2 separate regions of the Homo sapiens genome follow, and region 1 is linked to region 2. The links come from fine-mapping of genetic effects on gene expression. A gene starts in region 2. The other region holds a variant in brackets. All regions are shown on one strand. Distances are from middle to middle.

Evidence for each region. PIP is the estimated chance that this variant, and not a neighbour inherited with it, causes the effect. A credible set is the group of variants that fine-mapping cannot tell apart.
Region 1: its variant is the best candidate, but not a certain one, in a credible set for the expression of HHAT in caudate (GTEx, PIP 0.73).

What each region holds. Positions count from the first base shown.
Region 1 is chr1:210,380,225-210,385,599 of GRCh38, forward strand. All of the region lies in intron 3 of HHAT (hedgehog acyltransferase), which reads left to right. Among named protein-coding and RNA genes, the nearest start is that of HHAT, 54 kb to the left of the region's middle. The variant A/G (reference allele first, on the strand shown) is at 3,383.
Region 2 is chr1:210,325,892-210,331,266 of GRCh38, forward strand. HHAT (hedgehog acyltransferase) reads left to right here and starts at 3,011. Exons shown (of 12, transcript NM_018194.6): 1 at 3,011-3,213. RefSeq lists enhancers at 2,184-2,353, 3,228-3,587, 4,700-4,869 and a silencer at 2,818-3,067.

The DNA of each region.
Region 1 (5,375 bases), 54 kb after region 2:
ACAGCTCAGTAACCTGTAATTAAAGCACAGTGGGGACTGGGTCTGGTGGCTCACGCCTATAATCCCAGCACTTTGGGAGGCTGAGGAGGGTGGATCACTTGCAGTCAGGAGTTCAAGATTAGCCTGGCCAACGTGGTGAAACCCTGTCTCTACTAAAAATACAAAAATTAGTTGGGCATGGCAGTGTGCACCTGTAATTCCAACTTCTTGGGAGCTGAAGCAGGAGAATCACTTGAACTCAGGAGGCGGAGGTTGCAGTGAGCCGAGATCATGCCACTGCACTCCAGCCTGGGCGACAGAGCAAGACTCTGTCGCAAAAAATAAATAAAATAAAATAAAATTTTAAAAAGCACAATGGGATAAGTTGCTTTGTTACAGGTAACCGTAGTGGCATATTGTGGGAGCATAGGCAAGGGACACCGAGTCCAGGCTGAATGGATGGACTACTAAAGGCTTCCTGGGAGAAGGCTTGCCTGAGCTGAGACCTGAAAGATATGTCCTCATTCACATGATGCTTCAGTGATGGTTTTTCCAAATAGAGGGAGCAAAGTGTGGGAGGCCCAGCTGCATGAATGTGGTGCTGTGGGGTCAGAGGGGTCAATGCAGTTGTAATGTGGGATGGTGGGGGCAGTGAAGGTTAGGTACGACGATGGAAGGGTGGACAGGGGGACAGGGCCATTTTATGAAGAACTGCATGAGTCTCACTGAGAAGTTTCTCTGGAATGCTAAGGGGAGCACATGAAGAATATTAAGTGGGGGAAATAACATGATCAAATATGCTCTTAAAAATATTACTTTGGTGCTGTGTAGGGAGCATGGAATGGAAGGAATAAGGCTAAATGGGTAGAAGTGAGTAGAGCACAGTCTGCGGAATTGAAGTAGGTCTAGCATATAGTACGGGGAGGAAAACGATTTTGCAGTAACTCCAAGACTTTCCTGGATAACAAAGCCTAATTGATATGCTGTGATTGACTATATGAAGCAGCATATACTAGATGCTTAATAAAATTTATTGAAAGATTTGAATGATTATGCAGTGGGTCATTTAAAAAAATTTTTTACTTTTATTTTTCTGAGACAGAGTCTTGCTCTGTTACCTAGGTTGGAGTGCAGTGACATGATCTCAGTTCACTGCAACCTCCACCTCCCAGGTTCAAGTGATTTTCATGTCTCAGCCTCCCGAGTAGCTGAGATTGTAAGTATGCGCCAGCACTCCCAGCTAATATTTGTATTTTTAGTAGAGATGGGGTTTCACCATGTTGGCCAGGCTGGTCTCGAGCTCCTGGCCTCAAGCTATCCACCCACCTTAGCTTTCCAAAGTGCTGGGATTACAGGCATGAGCTACTGCACCCGGCCTCAAATCATTTTTAAGGCTTACCCATGGCCTTTCTTAGACTCTGCTTCATTTGTAGATGTAAACTTCTGAGCTGATAGCAAACTATCTGCAAATACCATCCATAGACATAATAAAACAGTGCTCCTGACCCATCTCACTAGGAGATAAACAGTGGAACTATTCAGCAGGTCATGGACTGATTACAAAAAAAATCCAAAAAGACTCCAAAAACAGTGGGACCAGGGATCTGGGTTGAAGAACTGGTGGACTGAGCTAACTGATGTGGCTACAGGGTGAATTTCTCTCATTCACTTAGGGCGTCTCGGTGAGTGCCTTGGCACTTGGCTTGGTACTTTACATTTTAGTCTATTGACCAGGCCTTATTAGCTATGCGTTTGTGTTGTTTTCAGCTGGAGAATAGTCCTCAGTTTTCTGGGGAATGCAAGAGAAAGCACAGAACCAGAATTTTAGCCATCTCTTGTGATAACAACACAGTACTCCAGCTAAGAGGCTGAGAGTGAGTTGTGATCTGGCAAGGTTTAAGGGCGATGAGAATTCAAGGCTAGAAGGAGGAAAGATTTACTCAGTGGTGAGTTGCTAGGGCAAGTCCTCATTTGCCAGGAATTTTTTCTTGTAACTTTCTTCCCTAGTGACATAGGGGTGTGAGAAGAGGGGACGACCCCTTCTCCACGGGTGGGTGACAAGCACTTTCTTAGTATTTCTTTCCTTTAGCCTAGAAAATAATTGTCTTTCCCATTTTCTGAAAGGAATCTTAGACATTGTGCTAGTGGAGCCCTTCATTTTACACACAAGGAAATTCAATCCCAGATAGTTAAGTGACTTTTCCAAGTTTAAACAGAGGGAGAAATGTGACAAGTACTAGATAGGCTGATTTTTTGGCTCCGTTCCTGCTCCTCGCCATTTTAAAGGCTTGCTGAATGTTGGGCATCTAGGAGACAGATTTAAGTCAAGGTTCTTGCTCTCAGAGAGATCCATTTTTCCCTCCAGAGAGAAAATACAGGAATAAAAGTGATATAATAAATATGCCATAATAAAAGTTCTAGAATTGAGATGTGGATGACGGAGAAGGGAGTGCAATGAGGTCCACCTGGGGAGGTAGGTATGGGAAAGCTTCACTCTGGAGCTGACATTTGAATTGTACCATTTAGTGAGTATTTTGTGCATGTCACTGGGCTGGCTTTGTGGTTACGGGGCATAAATGAGGTGCACTCTAGGTTGGAGATTGCCTAGTCAAATAGTGTTGTGGGGCAAAGGGGTGGGAAGGGCAGAAAGTCCAGGTACAGGGACAAGCATGAGTAGAAACATCTCAGAAAAGGGTTTCCTCCTTGGCTTCAGACAGGCCTAGGTTTGAAACCCGGCTCTGCCCCTTACTAGGTTTGGATAAATAATCTGCTTTCTCTGACCTCCAGTTAACTCATTTGTAACACGGAGTTAGACAGAACTACTCAAAAAAGAAAAAAGAAAAAGTGAGCTTCAGGCCGGGCACGGTGGCTTATGCCTGTAATCCCAGCACTTTGGGAGGCTGAGGCTGGTGGATCTCTTGAGGTCAGGAGTTCGAGACCAGCCTGGACAATGTGGTGAAACCCCGTATCTACTAAAACTACAAAAATTAGCCAGGTGTGGTGGTATGCACCTGTAGTCCCAGCTACTTGGGAGGCTGAGGCACGAGAATCACTTGAGCCTGGGAGGCAGAGATTGCAGTGAGCCGAGGTTGTGCTATTGCACTCCGGCCTGGGCAGCAGAGCGAGACTGTCTCAAAAAAGAGCTTCAAATCACTGACGAAATAAAAAGAAAAAAACCCAAAACTTATTTATTTCAGCTACATGACATCCTGGAAAAAGTAAAATATGGAGACAGTAAAAAGATCATTGTTTGCCAGGGATTGAGGGGAGCAGGGCCAGGGTGGGAGGGATGAAGAGGTAGAGTACAGAGGATTTTTAGGGCAGTGAAACTATTTCATATGATATGATAATGGTGGATATGTGTTTTTATACATCTGTCCAAACCCATAGAATATGCAACATC[A/G]AGAGTGAACCCGAATATAAACCATGGACTTTGGGGTATCAATGTAGGTTCACCAGTTGGAACAAATATATTACTGTGGTGGGAGATGCTGATGGAGAGGGGTTAAGGGGTCTATGGGAATTCTCTGTACATTGTGCTTAATTCTTCTGTGAACTGAAAACTCTCTAAAAGATAAGGTCTGTTAAACAAATTGAGCTACTTTAAAGATTGTTATGAGGCTGTAATTAGAAAACACATACTCGAGTGTTCATCAGTGACTGGGAAGAAAGGACAGGTCTGTCAGTTTCACTGACATATGAAGTTGAGTTGCAGCACTGTTACCCCTCTCATTCTGCAGTGGGTTTTTGGTGTGTCTTCATTGTGGGGTGTGGTGGTCTTGGTGCTGGGGGTCTTCCTATTTAGACTTTGAGCTCCTCATGGTGCCTAGAGCAGAACTCTGCTGTGGGTAGGAAAAGAGGCAGTTACAAACACTAGGCCCAGACCCTTTCCTTTGTTAAGAAAGGAAAAAGTGTTTTGCTAGGACGTTAGAGTTACTATTTAAGAAACCCAGAACAATCATGTCTCTCAGAGTCCTTAGTATTACCTGGTAGCAGAATGTAAGCCTCAGAATAAACAACCACATTTGTTAACTTGTTCAGTGAATTCCGAAGTCTGGGTGCCCAGAGCTTTGAACGGTGAACGGGAGGATGACTGCTCTGTTGGTGAGTGTTAGGTAGCAGCTTCGGAGTATGTGCCCTCCCTGCCTGGGAATGGTACGGGGCGGGCTGAGCTGTTAAGGATTCTGTGAGTTTATGAACATTCAGCTGTAGGAAGGCATAATCAGTCATGTAGATTGGTCCCCAGGCTGGTAGTATCACATCACCTGGAAGCTTGTTAGAAATATAGAATCCCAGGCCCCACCCTTGATTGACTGCATCAGAATCTGCATTTTAGCAAGATGCATAGGTGGCTTGTGTCCACTTTGAGGTTGGATGTGGGTGACTTCTCCTTGGAGTACAGCCTCCCTGCTTCCATGGAGAAGCCTGCCTAGTTCTGCCTGGCTGAGATTTAGCTCCAGTTTATATCTGACCCCCTTAGAGTGCCAAAGAAGAGGTTCCTAATTGACTAATAACCATGGAGGCAAGAAAGAAAATGGGGGAAGGGACAGATCATGATGTTGTTCCTGATTTCAGGCTTTCATGTTTGCCTTGAAATGTGTGACTGAGCTCAGAGTCTATAAAGCTTTTGCTTCAAGAAGCAGTGAGTCAATATTTTTCTTACCCAAATCATTAAACATCATCTTGACCTATTCATTGGCCCAGCTTTTCTGTTTGGTCATTTCCCTTAGGTAACTTTTTTAAATAGGGAAGAATAGACATGAGAGAGACATTTTTATTTCCTTTAAATGAATGTTTTCTGTGATAATTAGAGGTGAAAGGCCATGTGTAATTTTTGTTGATGGGATTTTACCAGCAGAGTTTTCAGGAGTCCTGGACTTTCTGGTGGAACAGAAAGTCTTATATGTTTTGTTGTATTATATCCTTTTTTCCACCCTAAAAAATTAAACTTGGAGAAGTTTCGAGGCATAGGTAAGCTTGGGGTCATGAATTCTAAATGTAATTCTAAGTGTTCAAAAATGTTGTATTTAAAAAGCTCATATGTTTTTCTTTTTTTTTTTTTTTCTTTTTGAGTTTGTATTAAAAAAGTGTCTTGGCTTTTGTGTCTTTTAGCTGTATCCCTGTTATAAAAGTGGTATTTTACTAGCATGGCCTCATCACATGACCTTTGAACTTATTTACATTTGTTTAGTTAATTGACTCTTGGCTAATTTGGAAATCTCTAGATGGGGAAATAAGCTGTGGATCAGGGATCAGGAGCCAGGTTAAAGCTTTGAGTTCTCTGCTGTGCTGCCTGGCTGTGTGTTTGTGGGCATGTCCCAGACTCTGGTGTAGTCATCTCTAAATGGAAGCAATTCAACTACATACATGATTTCCAGCAAGGGACAGGGGCTTTA
Region 2 (5,375 bases):
AGTTGTTCATTTTGTTGTTCTTGAAGGGAGGACAATTGGTGGAAGCTTCTATTTGGCATCTTGCCCCACCTCCCTTAGATTTTGATAAATTTTAAGTTTTCATACTGCCAAATTGCTTACCCAACTAAACATTGTGTGTGAGTGCTATCACATAGCACCCATGCCAGGCTGTAATGTTATTTATTAATTTTTTGCCAACTTAATGTGTGAAAATTGTGTGTTCTTGTTTTTTTTTTTTTTTTTTTTTTTTTTGAGACGGGGTCTTGCTCAGTCACCCAGGCTGGAGTGCAGTGGCACGATCTCGGCTCACTGCAACCTCTGCCTCCCGGGTTCACGCCATTCTCCTGCCTCAGCCTCCCGAGTAGCTGGGACTACAGACACCCGCCACGATGCCTGGCTAATTTTGTTTTTGTATTTTTAGTAGAGACGGGGTTTCACCACGTTAGCCAGGATGGTCTTGATCTCCTGACTTCGTGATCCACCCACCTTGGCCTCCCAAAGTGCTGGGATTACAGGCGTGAGCCACCATGTTCTTGTTTTACTATGCATTTCATTGAGCTTTTTGCAATATATTTTTGTTTCCTACTTTTATTTCCCTCCTCCTTTTTCTAGTGGGTTGTCTATAAATGTGTCTTGCTCATCTATAATTGATTTCTAATGTTTTCTTATTGATTGTATTAACTCTATATATAATTTTAAAATTAACACTTTGCAAATTTCTTGCAAATATCCCAGTCTATTGCTTATCTTTAAATTTTGGCTATTATGGCCAAGCATGGTGGCTCACACCTGTAATCCCAGCACTTTGGGAGGCTGAGGCAGGTGCATCACTTGAGGCCAGGAGTTCGAGACCAGCCTGGCCAACAAGGCAAAACCCTGTCTCTACTAAATAGCCAGGTGTGGTGGCTGGTGCTTGCCTGTAATCCCAGCCACTCAGGTGGCTAAGGCACAAGAATTGCTTGAATCTGCAGTGAGCTGAGATCATGCCACTGTGCTTAGCCTGGGTGACACAGTGAGACTGTCTCTAATACATACATATATATATATATATATATATATATATATATACACACACACATAAATTTTGGCTATTTTTATTTGATGTTTCTGATTGCCTGTGTTTAAATCTGCCTTTATCTCCTTTGTGTTCGCCGGTGAATTTAAAGTGCATATGTAGACAGGGGTTAAGTGTAAATCACACTGAACCTATATTAACAACAGCATCTTTTAGAAATAATATAGGAGCTGTTATCACATCCCTGTCCCTGAGTTTGACACTACCTGAGTTGAGTTCTTATTCTGCCACTCCCTCTGCCAAACCCTTGGATCTAGAGTTGACAGATAAAATACCCAGTTAAGTTTGATTTTCAGATACCCAGGATGTAAATTTGAATTTCAGATATACCATTTTTTTTTTTTTTTTTTGGTAGAGATGGAGTTTCATCATGTTGGCCAGGCTGGTCTCGAACTCCTGGATTCAAGTTATCTACTCACCTCGACCTCCCAAAGTGCTGGGATTACAAGCTTCCTGTAAGTACTTAAAAAAAATAAGTATATCCCAAATATTGCATGGGTCATAGTGATACTAAAAAGTTACATATTGTTCACCTGAAATTATTTACTTATTTTTTTGAGACAGAGTCCGGCTCAGTCACCCAGGTTGGAGTGCAGTGGTGCGATCTGAGCTCACTGCAACCTCTGCCGCCCGGGTTCAAGCGATTCTCGTGCCTCAGCCTCCCAAGTGGCTGGGATTACAGGTGCAGGCCACCACACCCGGCTAATTTTTGTATTTTTAGTAGAGACGGGGTCTCACCATGTTGGCCAGGCTGGTCTCAAACTCCTGGCCTCAAGTGATCCTCCTGCTACCGCTCCTAAAGTGCTGAGATTACAGGCGTGGGCCACCGCGCCCAGCCTGAAATTCAATTTTAATTGAGTATGCTGTATTTTTATTTGCTAAATCTGGCACTCCTATTTGGGGCTAGTTTACTAACACCTGCTTACTGAACACCATCCAGTACCAGGTTTTGGGGTGAGTGGGTTGGGGGGAAGCAGAAAGAAAAGATAGCTCCAGCTCTTGGAGAGTTCATACTCTGGTTTCCTGGAGAATTCTAAAATCATTAAAATAATCCTCTCGACCATTACAATGACTGCTAGATGAAATTTCTGAGAGCACAGCTTCCGAGTTTCCCTGCTGCCTAGGGCAGAGTTATCCACCTTCACCTTATCATAGAACCACCTGAGACGCCCCTGCCATGGACAGTCTGATGCTTTTGGTTTGGGGAGGGATCCAGAAGCCCGAGGTTTTAATGAGAGCCACGTGATTCTGCTGAGATAAGTCTGGAGAACTCTGGCAAGCCTGTCTCTTGGCTCAGGCTTGGAGGCCTCCGAGCAGCAACATCGTCCCAATTATACCCCGTTGGAGCATCTTCAGATCTTCCACTCTTTTCACAACGCAATCAAAATCTTCGTACCCATTTTGCAGTAGTGATCTCTGTAAGTTGCTTTACAATTCATAAAGTTTATTCTATTTGATCTTCACTCTAATTTACAAAGAAAAGCAGGGAAGTCTATTTCTGTTTTACAGAGGTGTACAGGGAGGCTCACAGGGGCTAAGTTCACACAGTAAGCCCTCGAAGCTGCCAGGGCTGCAAAGCCCACCCTCTTTCCACCGCACCGAACTACCTCCTTTCGCCTACAAAACGTAGGTGGGGACCACTGGTGTTGGAATGACGGCCCACCTCGAGTTTCAGGTGACTTCCACTCTGCAATTAACTTGCAGGCAGCCCCAGACCTGCAATGAACACACGGGTGGGGGAGAGATATGCACGCCAGGGTCAGTGGGAACCAACAGCCGAGGGGTGAGCGGGGCTAGGGGCCCCGGGCCGCCGGCGGGGCAAACGCGGTTCAGAAACGCAGGCCGCGCTCTGGCCCGCCCCCTGCAGCAGCACGGCCTGCTCGCCATCGCCCGGAGAGCGCCGCGGGTTCCCGAGTCCGGGCGCGGAGGGCGCGCGGGCACGGCGGCAGGGGCGTGCTCGGAGGACGCGCGCTGCGCTGCTCCTCCAAAGGGCAGCTCCGGGGGAAAGAGGGTGGCGTCCCGGGGAAGCCCGCAGCCGCCGCCGATGTCGCTGGGACTCGGAAGTGCCGAAAGAGGGGTGTTGGGAACTCGCGGCGCGCGTGAACGTTGCCGTCGCCGCCGCCCGGGACAGCCCGGAGGTTGGTAACTGGTGACCATAGGGGGTCCTGGGGAGGTTAGATGCTGAATTTTCTGCGTCAGTTTACTCTGTTAAAAAAAAAATGCACAAAACGCTTTCCGTTTCCTACCCAAGTTCCCGTGTGCGCGCCCGAGGGCGGGACAGAGGAAGTTCCCGGTCGGGCGAAGAAGACAAAAGCGGCGGGGGCCGCGCGCGCAGTGCGCCCGGGCAAAGGCGGGGATCTAGGCGCCGGGACAAGTCCGCGCACGGCCCTGCCCACGTCCTCTCTCCTTGGCTTCGTCCCCAGCTTCCGGAACTGCTGCGGGGAGTTGCGAACTCTGGTCCTCTTGGCAGTATCGGCGGTGCGCCTGCCTGCCTGCTGTGACTCCAGGGACTCTAAAGTTAGAGACTTCCTTTGCGTTCTATCTTCAGGACTCAGTTTTCTTCCTCTGTTCTGAGTCTAACCTTCAGGTGGCAGGTCTTTATGCGGAAAAACCCTCCCGCTAATCCTCACCAGAGGTACTTTACGGGTAGCATTGGTGTTAAGAAATGTGCTGCTACCTGTGTACATTGCTCTTGGATCAGGGTTGTAGGGCTAGGGCATTTGGCATCCTCAGAGGTTTGCATTACGTGGGAGTGAGACATTGCTTCTCTTTCTGTTTTTGTTGTTGTTTGTGTTTTTGAGGCGGAGTTTCGCTCTGGTCGCCCAGGCTGGAGTGCAATGGCACAATCTCAGCTCACTGCAACCTCAGCATCCCGGTTTCAAGCGATTCTCCAGCCTTGCCTCCTGAGTAGCTGGGATTACAGGCATGCGCCACCACGCCCACCTAATTTTGTATTTTTAGTAGAGACGAGGGTCTCACCGTGTTGGCCAGGCTGGTCTCGAATTCCTGACCTCGGGTGATCTGCCCACCTCGACCTCCCAAAGTGCTGGGATTACAGGCGTGAGCCACCGTGCCTGGCATCTCATTCATTCTCAGAGCTAAGGACCTATTTCAATGTGATTAAGTGCTATGGGAATGCAAGGAGAGGAGAGGGAAGGCTTCATTGAAGAGGCGGTAGTTCATTGAAGGAGACTTTGAGGAATGATTTTTTTCCCCTTCCATTCCTCATGTTCCATTTTCCCTGTGATTTTTCTCCCTCCTTTCTCGTTGCCAGTCAGTCCCTAATTGTGATTGTTTGATAAGGACAGCTCTGACCTGAGAGATTCAATTAATGTTAATTTAAGGAGACTGTGTGCTTATTAGGTGCTTTAGATACATTATTTCTAAACCTTACAGTAACTGGGAAAGATAAGTGTTGTTATCTCTTTTCACAGTAGGATAGAGAAAGCCTTGGAGGGGAGCCAAAGCCACAAACTAGTACATGTCAGGGCCGGGTTTTGGACTCCTCTTTTGGATCAACGCCTGTGCTTTATCTACTGTTTACTTTGCCCCCTCCTTGGAAGTAGGTTAGATGGATGAACTTAGGGTGAAAGTCAATTCTTTGGAGGGAGCAGCCGTTTTTGTGGGTGGCCAGATGTTGGTGGGAGCTCTGTAGGTAGCATCAGGAACTTGCGAGCATGGGCCTTACCTGCACCCCCTGCTTCCAGCTTAGGACCTGGCCCAGGGGGAATGTTCCCTAAAGCAGTGGTCCCCAACCTTTTTGGCACCAAGGACCGGTTTCATGGACAATAAGTTTTTCATGGACTGGGGGAAGGGGGATGGTGTTGGGATAATTCAAGCACGTTACATTTATTTTATTTATTTGTTTTGAGACAAGAGTCTCGCTGGGTCACCCAGGCTGGAGTGCAGTGGCACGATACTGGCTCACTGCAACCTCCACCTCTGGGGATCAAGCAATTCTCGTGCCTCAGCCTCCGGAGTAGCTTACAGGCATGCGACACCACATCTGGCTAATTTTTGTATTTTTAGTAGAGACAGGATTTCACCATGTCAACCAGGCTGGTCTCAAATTCCTGAGCTCGAACTCCTGAGCTCAAGCCATCCTCTCCTTGGCCTCCCAAAGTGCTGGGATTACAGGTGTGAATCACCATGCCCCACCTGCATTACATTTATTGTGGACTTTATTTCTATTATTATTACATTGTAATATGAATACAACTCACCATAGAGTAGAATCAGTGGGACCCCTGAGCTTGTTTTTCTGCAACTAGGCAGTCCCATCTGGGGGGGTGTGTTGGTA